4 linked regions of the Homo sapiens genome follow. The protein of the gene in region 1 interacts with the protein of each later gene in a pairwise test. Each region holds a gene or a part of one and is shown on either strand. Other genes may lie near its edges.

Evidence for each region. Proteins that work in one complex are often made in the same cells at the same time.
Region 2: the proteins of MCCD1 (region 1) and USP20 interact in binary tests that used the Homo sapiens proteins (3 or more experiments, as listed by UniProt).
Region 3: the proteins of MCCD1 (region 1) and MYL7 interact in binary tests that used the Homo sapiens proteins (3 or more experiments, as listed by UniProt).
Region 4: the proteins of MCCD1 (region 1) and PIH1D2 interact in binary tests that used the Homo sapiens proteins (3 or more experiments, as listed by UniProt).

The regions. Positions count from the first base shown.
Region 1 is NC_000006.12:31,527,670-31,530,732, reverse strand, and holds MCCD1 (mitochondrial coiled-coil domain protein 1 precursor), read right to left. Parts: upstream 1,772-3,063; 5' UTR 1,719-1,771; coding exon 1,548-1,718; intron 987-1,547; coding exon 798-986; 3' UTR 501-797; downstream 1-500. Other genes in the region: spliceosome RNA helicase DDX39B, read left to right, coding at 283-299.
Region 2 is NC_000009.12:129,873,458-129,876,957, forward strand, and holds part of USP20 (ubiquitin carboxyl-terminal hydrolase 20), read left to right. Parts: intron 1-24; coding exon 25-58; intron 59-241; coding exon 242-287; intron 288-1,118; coding exon 1,119-1,299; intron 1,300-1,371; coding exon 1,372-1,498; intron 1,499-1,852; coding exon 1,853-2,022; intron 2,023-2,102; coding exon 2,103-2,184; intron 2,185-2,672; coding exon 2,673-2,781; intron 2,782-3,500.
Region 3 is NC_000007.14:44,138,533-44,142,542, forward strand, and holds MYL7 (myosin regulatory light chain 2, atrial isoform), read right to left. Parts: upstream 2,801-4,010; 5' UTR 2,774-2,800; coding exon 2,771-2,773; intron 2,543-2,770; coding exon 2,429-2,542; intron 2,325-2,428; coding exon of another isoform or gene 2,256-2,324; coding exon 2,180-2,255; intron 1,896-2,179; coding exon 1,791-1,895; intron 1,329-1,790; coding exon 1,250-1,328; intron 1,038-1,249; coding exon 989-1,037; coding exon of another isoform or gene 890-988; intron 491-889; coding exon 389-490; 3' UTR 332-388; downstream 1-331.
Region 4 is NC_000011.10:112,067,298-112,071,017, reverse strand, and holds the end of PIH1D2 (PIH1 domain-containing protein 2), read left to right. Parts: intron 1-316; coding exon 317-582; coding exon of another isoform or gene 583-591; intron 592-3,012; coding exon 3,013-3,147; 3' UTR 3,148-3,220; downstream 3,221-3,720.

The DNA.
Region 1 (3,063 bases):
GTGTGTTTGTCCGAAATCCCATCACATAGGTCATGGGCATCTGATGCATAATGGACACTTGACTGGTTCATGCCCCCTGGTCTTTGATGCTGTGTTGGGATGTTTTTCTGACCTTTATGTGGGGTGTCTTGTCTTCTCTCATCATATTACATCCCTTCCCTCACCCCCACGTCCGTCCTCTGAACCCAGGCAGTACACCAGTGTCTGCATGTGTGCCGTGTGTTCCTGCCTCACTTTCCCCTTTTCATGCCTTATTCTGACCATGCTACGTTTTCTTCTCAGTTGAACAGACACGGTAGAAGACTCGCCCATTTTGGAATGTGACCGTCTGTCCTTCAGGAGAGGACACCAGGGTGGGGGTGAAGGAGACACTACTGCCCCCACCCCTGACAGCCCCCACCCCATGGCTTCCATCTTTTGCATCACCACCACTCCTGAACCCCCATTTCTGATTTGTCAGAATTTTTTTTTAACAAAACTAAAAATGAAACACATGTGTCTGTGGTATCTATAAGTGCTTCGTCCCTTTATTGTATTTGGGGTGAGGTTATTTTAGGGCATGGTCCAGGGTGAATTCCTATAAGGCCTGGGTGCCCTGCCTGCTGTGAGATCAAAGGGGAATGGGACTAAGACTGCAGAGCCCTGGCTCCCCCACTGCCTGCCAATTGCCTGCGCTTTGTGGTCTCTTCCACTTTCTCTGGCCTGGGAAGACGCTGGGGTGTTTATGATCCCAAGGCTCCTGGTGGGTGGTGCGTGTATTTTCAGCGCCGGAGGGTGCTGTGGGCACTGGGGGAAACTTAGGCGCCTCCTCCAAGGCTCTCTTGGTGCCTCCTCATCTGTTCCTTCAGCTTCTGGATCTTGAGCACCAGGGCTTGGGCCTCCCAGGCTCCCTCCTGCCCTTCAAGGAGGGCCTGGTACAGCTCCAGCTGCTGCTCCAACAACTCTTCAGCTCGGGCCAGCTCAGCTGTGCGGTGGGTCCCAGGGCCCTGGTCAGGGAATTAAGGGAGGGAGCATCAGCCAGGGCAGGGGGCTGAGGCCCTGGGAAGCTTTGTTGCAGGCTGTGGCTGGAAGTGAGAAATTCCACCTTCCCTATTCGTTTTTGAACCGGTCGTTTAAGGACACCTGTACTGAGAAGGCCAGGTAGCTTCCTGTCTTGGGCATAGGCCTCTGGGTGGTAGTAGGGGGAGCAAATAGAGTTCCCTGGCCCAGGGGCTGTAACTGGCTTCCTTGAACAAGGATATGGGGTCACTGGAAAGAGGATCAGCTGCTCCTCCCCGCTAAGAAATAATTAACTGTTAGGTGAGGGGGAATAGATCCTGTTCAAGGACTTTGTGGACTGTGCTGTTGTGGGTGGGGGTGGGGTGAGGGAAGGGAACCCTGAGGTCTGGGCTGGGGGAGGTGGGGAGAGGAGTTGGTAGCTGAACTAAGAAAAGAGCTGCAGGGGTAGGCATGGTGTGGGGTGGTGCAGGGTGGGATTGAGGGTTTTTTTTTCCCACACCCCAGTGTAAATTCTCACACCCTCTGTTCCTACCTGTGGTGCCACTTACCCTGGGAGGGGACGTCATCTTCCCATTTCCTCTGGAGCTGGTCTGCTCTTCCATGCTTGCTTTGGGGTTTTGGGAGCAGCACCCATGGGAGCCCTGGGGTGCCAAGGACCAGGAGGGCAGAAGGAGGCGAAGGAAATGGTACCGAGAGAGCCAGGGCAGAGGGAGGACCATGGCGGGTGACCTGGCAGGGAGCTGTGTGAGCTGTCCAACGGCCACCAGGAACTGGTTCGCTCCAGGACTTGGCCTCACTTGAGTGCCTGGCCCTGCCCAGGCCCCAGCCCCCAGCCCTGCCCCTGCCCCTGCCCCACTCTGCCCCACGTCTCTCCCAGCCTGGCCCCAGACAGAGTCCAGGAACAACTCCTGTTCCTGATGTGAAAAATGTCCCTGCCAGTTTAGGCAGAACTTGCTTTAGAGCACTGGTGCCCAGCCTACCACAGGTCTGTGATTTTTTTTTTTTGATCTAGTGTTTATTAGGTATGAATTTTACAAACATTAGCGGTAGCTGTGGAGCTGGAGAGTATTGCACCTTCTCCAAGCTGCATGGCGAGAACCACCAATAGTGTGGTAGAACTTACAGCCCTTTCCAAGGCCGTGGCTCTCTTGGCCTGCAGATAGCCTACGCATCTCCCTATGCTTGTTGTGGACCACTGGGTGTCAGGTTTCCTTCTGATAGTGTTATGGAATGGATCAACTAGGATAGCCTCAAAAACTTTGTATGTGGAATCTTTAACCAGCCCAGTGAGAATTCAGGACTCAGAGCCCCACAGTGGCATCCAGCTTGCTCTTCTGTAACAGACTGAAGGCTTTAAGCAAACTAGCTGGTTAACACCATGATAGACAGGCTTGCTGTTAAGTTGCCTTCTTAGGAACTAGATTTTCAGCCACCGTGGCGCTTATATGTAACATAACCTTGCTTGGCTGTAGCCCAGTAGCGTGCTTTATTGGGCTGGGTGGGGCGGGGATCCCTGTGGAGAGCAGAGAGCTGGTGGTACTGCCAGCAGCGGACCCTCAGAAGAAAGCTCATGACATCAGACTGCTTCTTCCATAGCTTCTGGATGTACTTGTATGCACCATCTTGGTTTACCCAGTGGCTGCTGCCAGACAGAAAGGAAAGGCTACCACAGGTCTTGTGTCTTTTTTTTTTTTTTTTTTTTTTTGAGACGGAGTCTCGCTCTGTTGCCCAGGCTGGAGTGCAGTGGCGCAATCTGGGCTCACTGCAAGCTCTGCCTCCCGGGTTCACGCCATTCTCCTGCCTCACCCTCCCGAGGAGCTGGGACTACAGGTGCTCGCCACTACGCCCGGCTAATTTTTTGTATTTTTAGTGGAGACGGGGTTTCACCGTGTTAGCCAGGGTGGTCTCGATCTCCTGACCTCATGATCCGCCCGTCTTGGCCTCCCAAAGTGCTGGGATTACAGGCGTGAGCCACCGCACCCGGCATTTCTTAACACTGTCTTTTCTCACTTCACTCTGCAAGGTAGGAATTACCTCACTGGTTTGCACCTGAGGAAACTGGCT
Region 2 (3,500 bases), on another chromosome or scaffold:
TGACCCTTTGTTTTACTGCCCTAGGTGACAACATGTACAGCTGTGAGCGGTGTAAGAAGTAAGTGAGCCTTCCCCCGCCTTCTCCCTAACTGCCGTTTCTGTGCCCTACATATTCCCCTTGGGTTCCTGCAGAGAGCCCCCTATAATCCTGCCTTCCCAGAAGGGAGCCGGGTGGAGGGCTGCTTCCCTGGCCCCTGGCCCTGATGCCGGACACTGATGCTGGCTCGTGCTTCCTCCCCAGGCTGCGGAACGGAGTGAAGTACTGCAAAGTCCTGCGGTTGCCCGAGGTGAGCCAGTGGCCTCGGCAGCCTCCTCCTCAGCTATCTCGGGATGCACACCAGCACACACCAGGCAGGGGCTGAGCCTGCTCCACTGCTCGGGCACTTCTGTGCTGCAGGGGCCGTGGAGACTCCATAGCTTTGGCTGAGAAACCTCTGGGAAGGGTTGGCAGGGGGCACATTTTTCCAACTGTGACTTGGTGCCCTCTCTCGGTAGCCTCAGCACATGTTGTCTAACATGTTGTATGAGGGCCCAATGGGAGGCAGGTGTGTGGGACACTGGGTTACCACCCCCAGTGAGACAGCTATGGCTCCTGCCAGCTGCAGAGTGGCGGGAGGAGAGCTGGTCCAGCTGGGGCTGTTGCCAGGGGTCTTTCTGAGGAGTAACGTCTGAGTGGGGCCTGGAGGGTGTAGGCTGGTGTCAGCGTCGTGGATGGAAGGCACAGAAGGAACAGACAAAACCCCAGTGCAGGAGCAGGCTTGTCCGCACCAAGGAAGGCACGTGTGGCTGGAGCAAAGAGGAGAGGGCCCTGGCAGAGGGGGCCCAGGTTGGGGCTGTGGTGGCTCGGGGAGGCTTTGTGGCTTCTCAAAGGTAGTGCCGACAGAACTGGTAAACTTGATGGCTCATTGCAGCTCTTGGGGTCCAGTTCTCAGCAGTGGAGCTGGGAGTGATCTGTGTGACTTAGAGCGAGCCCAGTCTGGCCCCCACGTGGAACTCTTGGATTTGTTCCAATGGAGTCAGCTTGCATGATCCCATCAGCTGTCCTGGGCCCGTGGGCAAGGCTGCGAGGGCCCGCATCATTTCTTCCTAGATGACCGGCGCTCTCTCTGTCCCCGCAGATCCTGTGCATTCACCTAAAGCGCTTTCGGCACGAGGTGATGTACTCATTCAAGATCAACAGCCACGTCTCCTTCCCCCTCGAGGGGCTCGACCTGCGCCCCTTCCTTGCCAAGGAGTGCACATCCCAGATCACCACCTACGACCTCCTCTCGGTCATCTGCCACCACGGCACGGCAGGCAGTGAGTCATGTCCCCTCCCCTGCCGTCCCCATCCGCTAGGATCCCTGTGACCCGTCTGCTCTGCCGCCGCAGGTGGGCACTACATCGCCTACTGCCAGAACGTGATCAATGGGCAGTGGTACGAGTTTGATGACCAGTACGTCACAGAAGTCCACGAGACGGTGGTGCAGAACGCCGAGGGCTACGTACTCTTCTACAGGTGGGCGCTGGGCCAGGCCTGGTGGAGGAACCTCACCATCCCCGTCCCCTGGGACCCATGGGCCTTCTGGGTGTGTGTAGGGGACAGCGCCTGGATTAAGCCAGGGAAGTAAGGACTTGGATTGTTAAGAAACAGCCCTCTGGCTGCTGTGGGGAACCCAGGAAGGCAGCTTGGAGCCTTCTCCAGGGCCCTGGCTGGCGGCACAGGGGGCTGCTCACATGTCCAGGACCCGTGAAGGACCCAGGAGGTGGTGGACAGGGCCGGTAGCCCGAGGTGCACTGGGATGGGGGCTCTGCATGTGTCTGAAGGTGGCAGCCGTCAGGCACAGCTTCTCGCCCCCTCCTCACCCCACAGGAAGAGCAGCGAGGAGGCCATGCGGGAGCGACAGCAGGTGGTGTCCCTGGCCGCCATGCGGGAGCCCAGCCTGCTGCGGTTCTACGTGTCCCGCGAGTGGCTCAACAAGTTCAACACCTTCGCGGAGCCAGGCCCCATCACCAACCAGACCTTCCTCTGCTCCCACGGAGGTGAGGCGCCCCCTGTGGTGGGAGAGCAGGGTGGGCAGCTGGGCCGAGCCACAGCTTCGCTCCCTGTACCTTCTTCCCAGGCATCCCGCCCCACAAATACCACTACATCGACGACCTGGTGGTCATCCTGCCCCAGAACGTCTGGGAGCACCTGTACAACAGGTGAGAGCCTGGGAGGCCAACTTGTCTCCGTCCTGTCCAGGGCCCAGCTGGGCAGGAAAAGAGGGGAGGGCAGGGAAGGAATGCCACCAGGACCCCACACCACACTCTGGCCTCCACGTGGGCAGCACAGAGCCGCCTTCACTTGTCTCATGGAGAATGACACATGTCGTTTGTGGGAATCCGCTTGGATCCTTCCAGCGGCAAGGGACAGGAAACTGGCTGAAGCACAGCTGAGTGTGTTGGCCATCTGCTGAAGCACAGCTGAGTGTGTTGGCCATCTGCTCTTCAGCCTTGAAGCAGGACCTCCCTTGGGCTGTGGGCGCGCTGCTCCGTTGCAGGCTCTGTGGTGCTCACACAGAGGTGCATGCAGGCCTGCGACAGCGCTGAGGGGGCACTGATGGCTTGAGGGGGAAGTGGAAGGCAGTGATCACTCTCCCCTCCCTGGTACCCCGCTCAGGCCGTGTCTCTCTCTCCCACCCTGGGCACAGATTCGGGGGTGGCCCCGCCGTGAACCACCTGTACGTGTGCTCCATCTGCCAGGTGGAGATCGAGGCACTGGCCAAGCGCAGGAGGATCGAGATCGACACCTTCATCAAGGTGCGTGCGGCGAGGCGGCGCGGGGGCGGCTCTGCCAGCCTCTGCCTGGGGCAGCTGGGGACTTGGGGACAGAAGAATCCTGTGCAGTCCCTGAGCAAGTTTGAAAGCAGTCTTTTGAGGCTGGGCATGGTGGCTCACACCTGTAATCCCAGCACTTTGGGAGGCTGAGACGAACAGATCACTTGAGGTCAGGAGTTTGAAACCAGCCTGGCCAACATGGCAAAACCCCGTCTCTACTAAAAATACAAAAATTAGCTGGGCTTGGTGGCAGGTGCCTGTAATCCCAGCTACTTGGGAGGCTGAGGCAGGATAATCGCTTGAACCTGGGAGGCGGAGGTTTCAGTGAGCTGAGATTGTGCCACTGCGCTCCAGCCTGGGCAACCGAGTAAGACTCCATCTCAAAAAAAAAAAAAAAAGAAAAAGAAAAGAAAGGAGTCTTCTGCGGGGAACTAGATGGCCAGGTGTCTAGGAGGGCTTTTCCTGGTGGGAGGGTTGGCTTGAGTAAGTGAAGCCTCATCGCCCGGGTGCTGTTGAGCTTAAAGAACCAGTAGATGGATCCCATTCTCAGCCTTGGCTGTGTTATTTTGGGCTGAATTATTCTTTATTGTGGGGCCGTCCTGTGCATTGTAGGATGTTTAGCAGCATTCTTGGCCTCTACCCACTAGTGCTAGTGACAACCAAAATGACCTCCAGAGATTGCCCAGGGTCCCCTGGGGTGC
Region 3 (4,010 bases), on another chromosome or scaffold:
GCACAGCCCCAAGTAGCTGGGCAGTGCCCACTTTGTGGCTCATTCCTGGGCTTGGTGGAGGTGGTGTAAATCCCACCATCTCCTCTTCTAGAGGGCTGGCCTTGGTAAGATGCTCACACTTTCTGGGCCTCAGTGTCCTCATCTGTAAACTAGGCATGATCATAGTTCACACTTCACTTGGCATCATGGGAGTGAATCAAGGTGAGCTGGCGAGGGGCCAGCTCCCAGGAGGTAGATGGTGGCCATGATCATGGTGATGTGCGCACTGAGACCCTGGGATCCCCCTTGGCTGGTCCCCAACCCATCTGTCACAGACAAGACACCACAGCAATTCCAATTTTGCAACAGAGTTTATTGAGGTGCCCCCCCGTGGGCCTGGCCCTGCCCCTCATTCCTCTTTCTCGTCTCCATGGGTGATGATGTAGCACAGTGACTTGTAGTCGATGTTCCCCGCCAGGTCCATGGGTGTCAGGGCGAACATCTGCTCCACCTGCAGGGGACACTGGTGAGTGGCAGTCCCCTGGCTCCTGGCCCAGCCCGGCAGAGACCTCACCTGAGTCCTGTGGCCTTTCTGTCTGCCCCCTGCATCTGTGCTTTTTGCCTTAGCTTTTCAACCCTAGACCCCAGACTCTGGGTTAATGTTTTTCTCTTGGCTGACTCTGGGCAGAGTGAGGAGTCAGTGCAAATGTGGGCCAAGAGGCAAAGGACGCCCCTCCAGCCACAGGCACAGGCCCACCCCGAGTGTACGAAACCTCTCCCTATCCACTTCCCCCCAGGTCTGTGCACAGTCTCCCTGCCTGGCGCACCCTGCCCTCTTTTCTGACTCCACATCTTTACCCTCTAGGTCTCAACAGAGATGGCACCTCCTCCAGAAGGGCCCTCGGCTCACCCTTCCAGCAACTGCCTCACTGGTACTGGGCTCTGGGTCATGGGTGAAGGCCCAGAGAAGGTGCTGGGGATGAGTATTGAAGGGGCTGGGCAGCCTCACCTCAGCTGGAGAGAACTTGTCTGCCTGGGTCAGGAGAAGCTGCTTGAACCTGGGGGGTGAGGAGGGTCTGAGCAGGAGACTGCGGGGGAGTGACTGCACAGGGAAGGTGGGTACGGAGGCTCCCATGGCGCAGGGAAGGGTTGGCTGCACCCCAAAGAGCAGTGTAAGGCCCCGAAGCACAGGCAGCCCCCCTCACTAGGGGCCTCACCCCGCTCTCTGCTTCCACCACGGTGCTCCTCATCTGGCTGGGCCCATACTTACTCATCCTTGTTCACCACCCCTTTGCCGCTGGGGTCAAACATGCGGAAGGCACTCAGGATGGCTTCCTCGGGGTCTGTCCCTGGAAGGCCGAGGCAGCCAGGTGAGCATCCATGTCTCCAGCATCCCAGGTCCCCCGCAGGAGGAACTGGGCTGCATGAGGAGCCTCCCACATCCCAGAAGAGGTGGGGGTATTCCCTAACATAAAATGTTTCTCGGGGATCAGTGGGGCTGGGAATGGTCATCCTCCTGAGGCGGGCAGCTTGGCTGGGAGACTGGAATTTGGGGGTGGGGGCTGAAGGCACATTTCCTGGCTCCAAGTCAGCACTGGGGTGACCAGTGCACATGGGATTCTGGGGCAGAGGATGTGCTTGGAATGGGTCATGGCCAGGAAGAGTCCAGGTGGGTCCAGGTGGGGTTCAGTTAGGGTTCAGGTGGGGTTCATGTAAGGTTCAGGTGGGGTTCAGGCAGGGTTCAGGTGGGGTTCAGGCAGGGTGCAGGCTCCCTGCCTGGCCAAGGGTGCCCAGCTCTGTCCCAGGCTCACCATTGAGCTTCTCCCCAAAGAGCGTGAGGAAGACGGTGAAGTTGATGGGGCCCTTGCCCTCTTGCAGCATGGCGTCCAGCTCCTCCTCTGGGACACTCACCTTCCCTGGTGGGGGTGGGGCATGAGGTGCACACAGGGACCCTGGGTGTCCCCCAGAAGGCCCAGGCCGCCCTCCCTCCATCCTGGCCACAGGGGCTGGAGGGGCAGAGGCAGCTGTGGGTCGGGAAGGTGAAGTGGAAGCAAGGCGTGACAAGGGGGGAAGGGCAGTGTGAGGAGACGGGGAGGAGGGGAAGCAGGGGAGCAGAGTCCTGTCCCCCCAGCCACTCCCACCCGCCCAGCAGCTCAGAGTAGGGACCCCAGTGCGCAGGGTGGGAGGTGGGTGCACGCACCCAGCTGGGAGTAGGTCTCCCTCAGGTCTGCCTTGCAGATGATGCCATCACGATTCTGGTCGATACAGCTGAAGGCCTGTGGGATGGGGGCCTTCAGGTGGGAGCAGCCCCCAGCTCTAGGGAAGGTGGGAGGTGGGGGAGAGACCTGGGTGGTGTGAGAGGCAAGGTCAGGGTAGAAGGGGGGTATGTATGTGGGGTGGGGTGGGGGGGCCAGGATGGGATCTGAGGCTACTGGGAGTGGGCACTCACTTCTTTGAACTCCTGTATCTGGGCTTGTTCAAACATGGAAAAGACGTTGGAAGAACCACGTTGGGCCTGCTTGGTGGCTGCCACCTTGCCCCGGGTCCCCGCCTTCCTGCTGGCCTGCAACACTGTGAGTAGGGAGGGGTCCTCTCCCCAACTCCTCAGAGTCTCCCCACCCCACCCATCATGCACAGTCCCAGAGCATTCCCAGGAGAGCCAGGGCCAGGATCCTCTTCCTCTCCCTGGGGACCACCCTCAACCCAACACAAGCACAGAAAACTCTGCTCCCCCAGCCCAAAGGCCAGCACCTGGGAGACCGCTAGCCTTTCTTCCCCAGCAGGCACTCACCATTCTCTCTGCAGAGGTGTGGCTGCTGTCGTGGTGGCAGGGCCCAGCCTCCTTTATGTCTCAGCCTTATCACCTGAAGGTCCAAATAAGGAGAGGAACAGAGGATAGGCCCAAACTTGGCAGCCCCCGCCTGGGCTGGGGGAGGCCTAACAGATTCCAGCCACATTCCTGATGACCTTCATGTCCTCAACGTGTAACATCCTGCTGTCTATCCATCCTGGCAGGGCCAGACACAATGTCTGCCTGGAGCAGAGCAGGCTCAAAGCTCTCACCACCCTAGGTCCTGATGAAGGGATCCAGTTACTCCTGTATCTGACCACCCCTCCTTGCCAGTCCAGCCAGAACCCTGGCCAGTGCAAGAAGACAGCTGGTGAGGGCCAGTCCAGGGCCCCCGCCAGGCATGGGAGGGCAGTGTGTAGTTCTGAGGATGGTCTGTGGCCTGAGACCCCCGGGGCTTCCCAGAGGTTTTGGTGACCCTAGGCTCTGACCTTTTGCCCCTCTGACCAAGGGGCAGAAGGCATCCCTGAGCTAGCTGTGACCCCAAGAAGAACACTTTGCTTGGCTTTGGGGCAATTCCAGAGGGTTAAGGAGCTCCATCAGCTGCCCTCCCATGCAGTCTACCTTGCTCCCAGTCTGCCCTGCTGTTTGGAGCCTTGCCTTCCTCAAGCCTCATCTCAACCACACTACTTCAGAATGCTCTCCCTAACATCCTCAGCAGGGAGCTTCTGGGGCACATTTCCCATTTGCCTGGTGGCTGATGTGTTTGTCATTCCTGGCTTCTGTGCCCCTCCTGAGCACCCCACCTGGTTGACATCTGTATCCCCAGAAGGCCTGGTGCACAGTGGGCCGATGGGCAGGCCTGCGTGATGCTGTTCCAGAGAAGCAGTCTCGCCAGCTTCTGGGGCCGAGGGCACAGCAGAGGGGCTGGGGAAACAGGGGACATCCTGGAGGCAGCAGGAGTGGGCCACCCCAGGCTGGGCTCACTGGCTGCTGCCCCTCCACTGGAGCCAGACCTATGTCTGTCAGTAGCTGGCTGGTAGAGTGCAGGAGCTCTTATCTGTCAGACCCAATACCCTTTTTATATAACAAGAGTTTTCTTTTAAATTTCTTAAATTCCCTTTTTTTTTTTTGAGACAGAGTCTCACTCTCGCACAGGCTGGAGTGCAGTGGCGCGATCTCAGCTCACTGCCACCTCTGCCTCCCGGGTTCAAGCCATTCTTGTTCCTCAGCCTCCCAAGCA
Region 4 (3,720 bases), on another chromosome or scaffold:
GGAAAATTAAACTGCTTTAAGATGTTTTTGGATCCTGTATACATTTTGCAAACTAGAAATCTCTATTTTAAAAGGTGAAAAACTTAAGATAGAAAAATGCAAATATTAAATATTAGAAATATCATATCCTTGATTTTTAAATCCTGAAAAATTTTCAATCAAATTCTTTGGTTTAAGATTCTTTTGGCTTGATTCCCAAACTAATTTAACTGCAGCTTTATCTACCATCTCTACTAACACCACATATATTATAGCTCATAGTATTTTATGTTGTAGATTTATTTTTTATCTCCCCTCCACCCTTTTTTTCATAAAGAACTAACTCTTGGACAGATACGAAGCAGTACTATGAGCAATCCAGATCACTTTCCTCAACTGTTACTGCCAAAAGACCAAGTTTCAGGCAAAGCAGTGTGTCTGATAGAAGAGATTTCCAGTACTGAAATCCAGGTGGAGATGAAGATGCCAGCCTATGAACTAAAAATTGTGCATGATCACAGTGAGAAACCTCTGAAAATTGAGTTGAAAGTTGAATTACCTGGTATTAATTCTGTCTCTCTCTGTGACCTTAGTGTTTCTGAGGTAAGTTGAATAGATAACACTGTAAATTTGTATTGGCCAGCATTCACTAACATATATTATGCCACAGTAACAAACTACATAATTTCAGGGGCTTACAATGATTTGCTCAGGTTACCCGGTGAAGGAGCAATTCCCTTCTGAGATGTGCCATTCACATCTCAGCAAAGGGAAAATAGAATGATCAAACCATGCAGTGGATCGTAATACTTCTACTCAGACATGACACTTCATGATATCACTTCTACTCACGCTCCACTGGCCAAAGTAAGTCACAAGGCCAGTTCTACATCAGTAGGACTGAGAAGTGTATTCTCACAGTCACAGGAAGTCATATGGCAGGGTAAACGTACTATCCTCTTACAGAAGAGCAAATAGTTAGAGTCAGTCCTACAGTCTACCAGTCTACACTCTTGGTTGCAAATATTTGCTTCTTTCTGGAAGGAAAACACCTCCAATCCCAGTATCAGACTCCAAAGGACAGAATTTTGCTTTCTCTTCCTCTTGAACCATGGACTAAGACATGTAAAAAAAGTTATGTACTCCCTCAGTCCCATCTGTCATGCAATGTGGAATGGGGAGAAGATAACCGTAATTAACCATCTCAATTCAGAAATGGGAAAAATAAGAGGCACACTGCAGTTACTGGTGCACAGCAATTCTGAAATCCTAGTAGGCAGACATTGTGAGGGCTCCTTTTCTGGAGGTAGAGGATGTTCTTACTTAGGTTCCTTGAGAAAGTTCTGTAATTACCTAGCTCCCCAGTTCCATTTTTTTCCACGACCTTTAGCTTCAGTCTTCAGGAAGATGTTTTCTTTTTTTTTCCCTTTCCCACTATCCACCTTGGCCACATCTGAAGAGTATCGGAGAATGTGCCATTCTTATATGCTAAGTAGCCTCTTCAGCCTGGTTCCTGCTCATGGAATCTTGGGGCTCAAAGGATTGTTTTAAATTTTGAAGGCAGTTTCTTTTAGTCCAGGCTGGTAGCATTTTGATTCCAGTCAGTGATACCCATAATTCCTTTTTAGACATTGCCCATATTTCAAGACTTACCTGTCTCTTTAGACTTAATTGCTGTCATTTTAGCCAAATGTAAGGATTTACTGAAGTCCACCTTAGTACAGTCAGAGGTTTTGGCTGGGTACGGTGACTCATGCCTGTAATCCTAGGATTTTGGGAGGCCGAAGGGGGGTGGATTGCCTGAGCTCAGGGGTTCGAGACCAGCCTGGGCAACATGGTGAAACCCTATCTCTACTAAAATACAAAAAAAACATCAGCCGGGCGTGGTGGTGGGCACCTGTAGTCCCAGCTATTCAGGAGGCTGAGGCAGGAGAACTGCTTGAACCCGGGAGGCGGAAGTTGCAGTGAGCCAAGATCGAGCCACTGCACTCCAGCCTGGGCAACAGAGCGAGACTCTGTCTCCCCTCAAAAAAAAAAAAACAAAAAAAAAAAAAAACAAAAAAAATTCAGAGGTTTTAACAAAGAGCATAAAGATTTAATCTTTGCCTCTATATTGCCTTAATCAGCTTGGTTGATAAAAGTAATTTCTCAATTTTATCCCTTACTTGCTGAAAATAAAAATTAGTTCCACTTTTCAGTCATTGAGTCTTGGAATCTTGGGGCTCTATAAAGTCCTTTTTATTTATTTATTTATTTTGAGACAGTCTCACTCTATTGCCCAGGCTGGAGTGCAGTGGCACCATCTCAGCTTACTGCAACCTCTGCCTCCCAGGTTAAAGCGATTCTCCTGCCTCAGCCTCCTGAGTAGCTGGGATTACAGGCATGTGCCACCAAGCCTGGCTAATTTTTGTATTTTTAGTAGAGACGGGGTTTTGCCATGTTGCCCATGTTGGTCTCGAACTCCTGGCCTCAAGTGATCCACCTGCCCTCAGCCTCCCAAAGTGCTGGGATTACAGGTGTGAGCCACCGCACTCAGCCAATTCCCTTTTAATTTGACTTGCAAAATGGTCCATTCTAAGCTCATCTTTCTTGTAATATCCTGTTAAATGTAGTGAACAGAACCAACACATTACCATCTATTTTCCCACTTCTTCACCTAAAGCCACAAATCAACTAGGCACAGAGTATTTATCATCCAAATTACTGTGATAGTTTCACTAAAGGCTTCATCATTATGAAACATGGATCACTACCTTTCCAGGCTCCAATAAGTTTCCTTGCTGTTTGCTGGTCAGCCACATAATTTAGGATGGCAACACTCTACTGTGGTACTGTATCAGTTAACGTGTGATGTAGTGAGCAGCAGTAACCACCTTAAAATCTAAGGGATTTACAACAGTAATTTTTTGCTCATTCCAAGTCACATGGCAACAAATGGGATCTTTTTATGGCAAAGGAGTGAATAACTGGGAACAATAAGTTAGTATCCCAAATTTTAAGCAGGAAATAAATCTCTTGGTTTATTATTCTTAGGATGATTTATTGATTGAAGTATCTGAGAAGTACAGATTACATCTGAATCTTCCAAAACTTATTGATACTGAAATGACCACAGCAAAATTTATCAAAGAAAAATCCACGCTAATCATCACAATGCCTTTGGTGTGAAAGAAGAGCATCATATGTTTTGGGTTTTCAGTGCTAAAGTCATGTGAATTAAAGGACCTTCATTTTGGCTAAAGAGGTAGTAGTTTATCTTAAACACCAATTCCATTATTTTCTAAGTTCATTTTGACTGAGATTTTCTCTTCACCTGTTATGTCAAATATATATATATATATATATATATATATTTTTTTTTTTTTTTTTTTTTTTTGAGACGGAGTTTCGCTCTTGTTGCCCAGGCTGGAGTGCAGTGGCACGATCTCAGCTCACTGCAACCTCCGCCTCATGGGCTCAAGCGATTCTGCCTCAGCCTCCCGAGTAGCTGGGATTACAGGCATGCACCACCACGCCCAGCTATTTTTTTGTATTTTTAGTAGAGACGGGGTTTCACCATGTTGACTAGGCTGGTCTTGGACTCCTGACCTCAGGTGATCCACCTGCCTCGGCCTCCCAAAGTGCTGGGATTACAGGCATGAGACACCATGCCTGGCCATGTCTTATATTTTTTAACTCACTTCTTCTCAAATAAACATCAACCAGAATTAAAAACTATTGCTATGACACACTTGTTTTAAA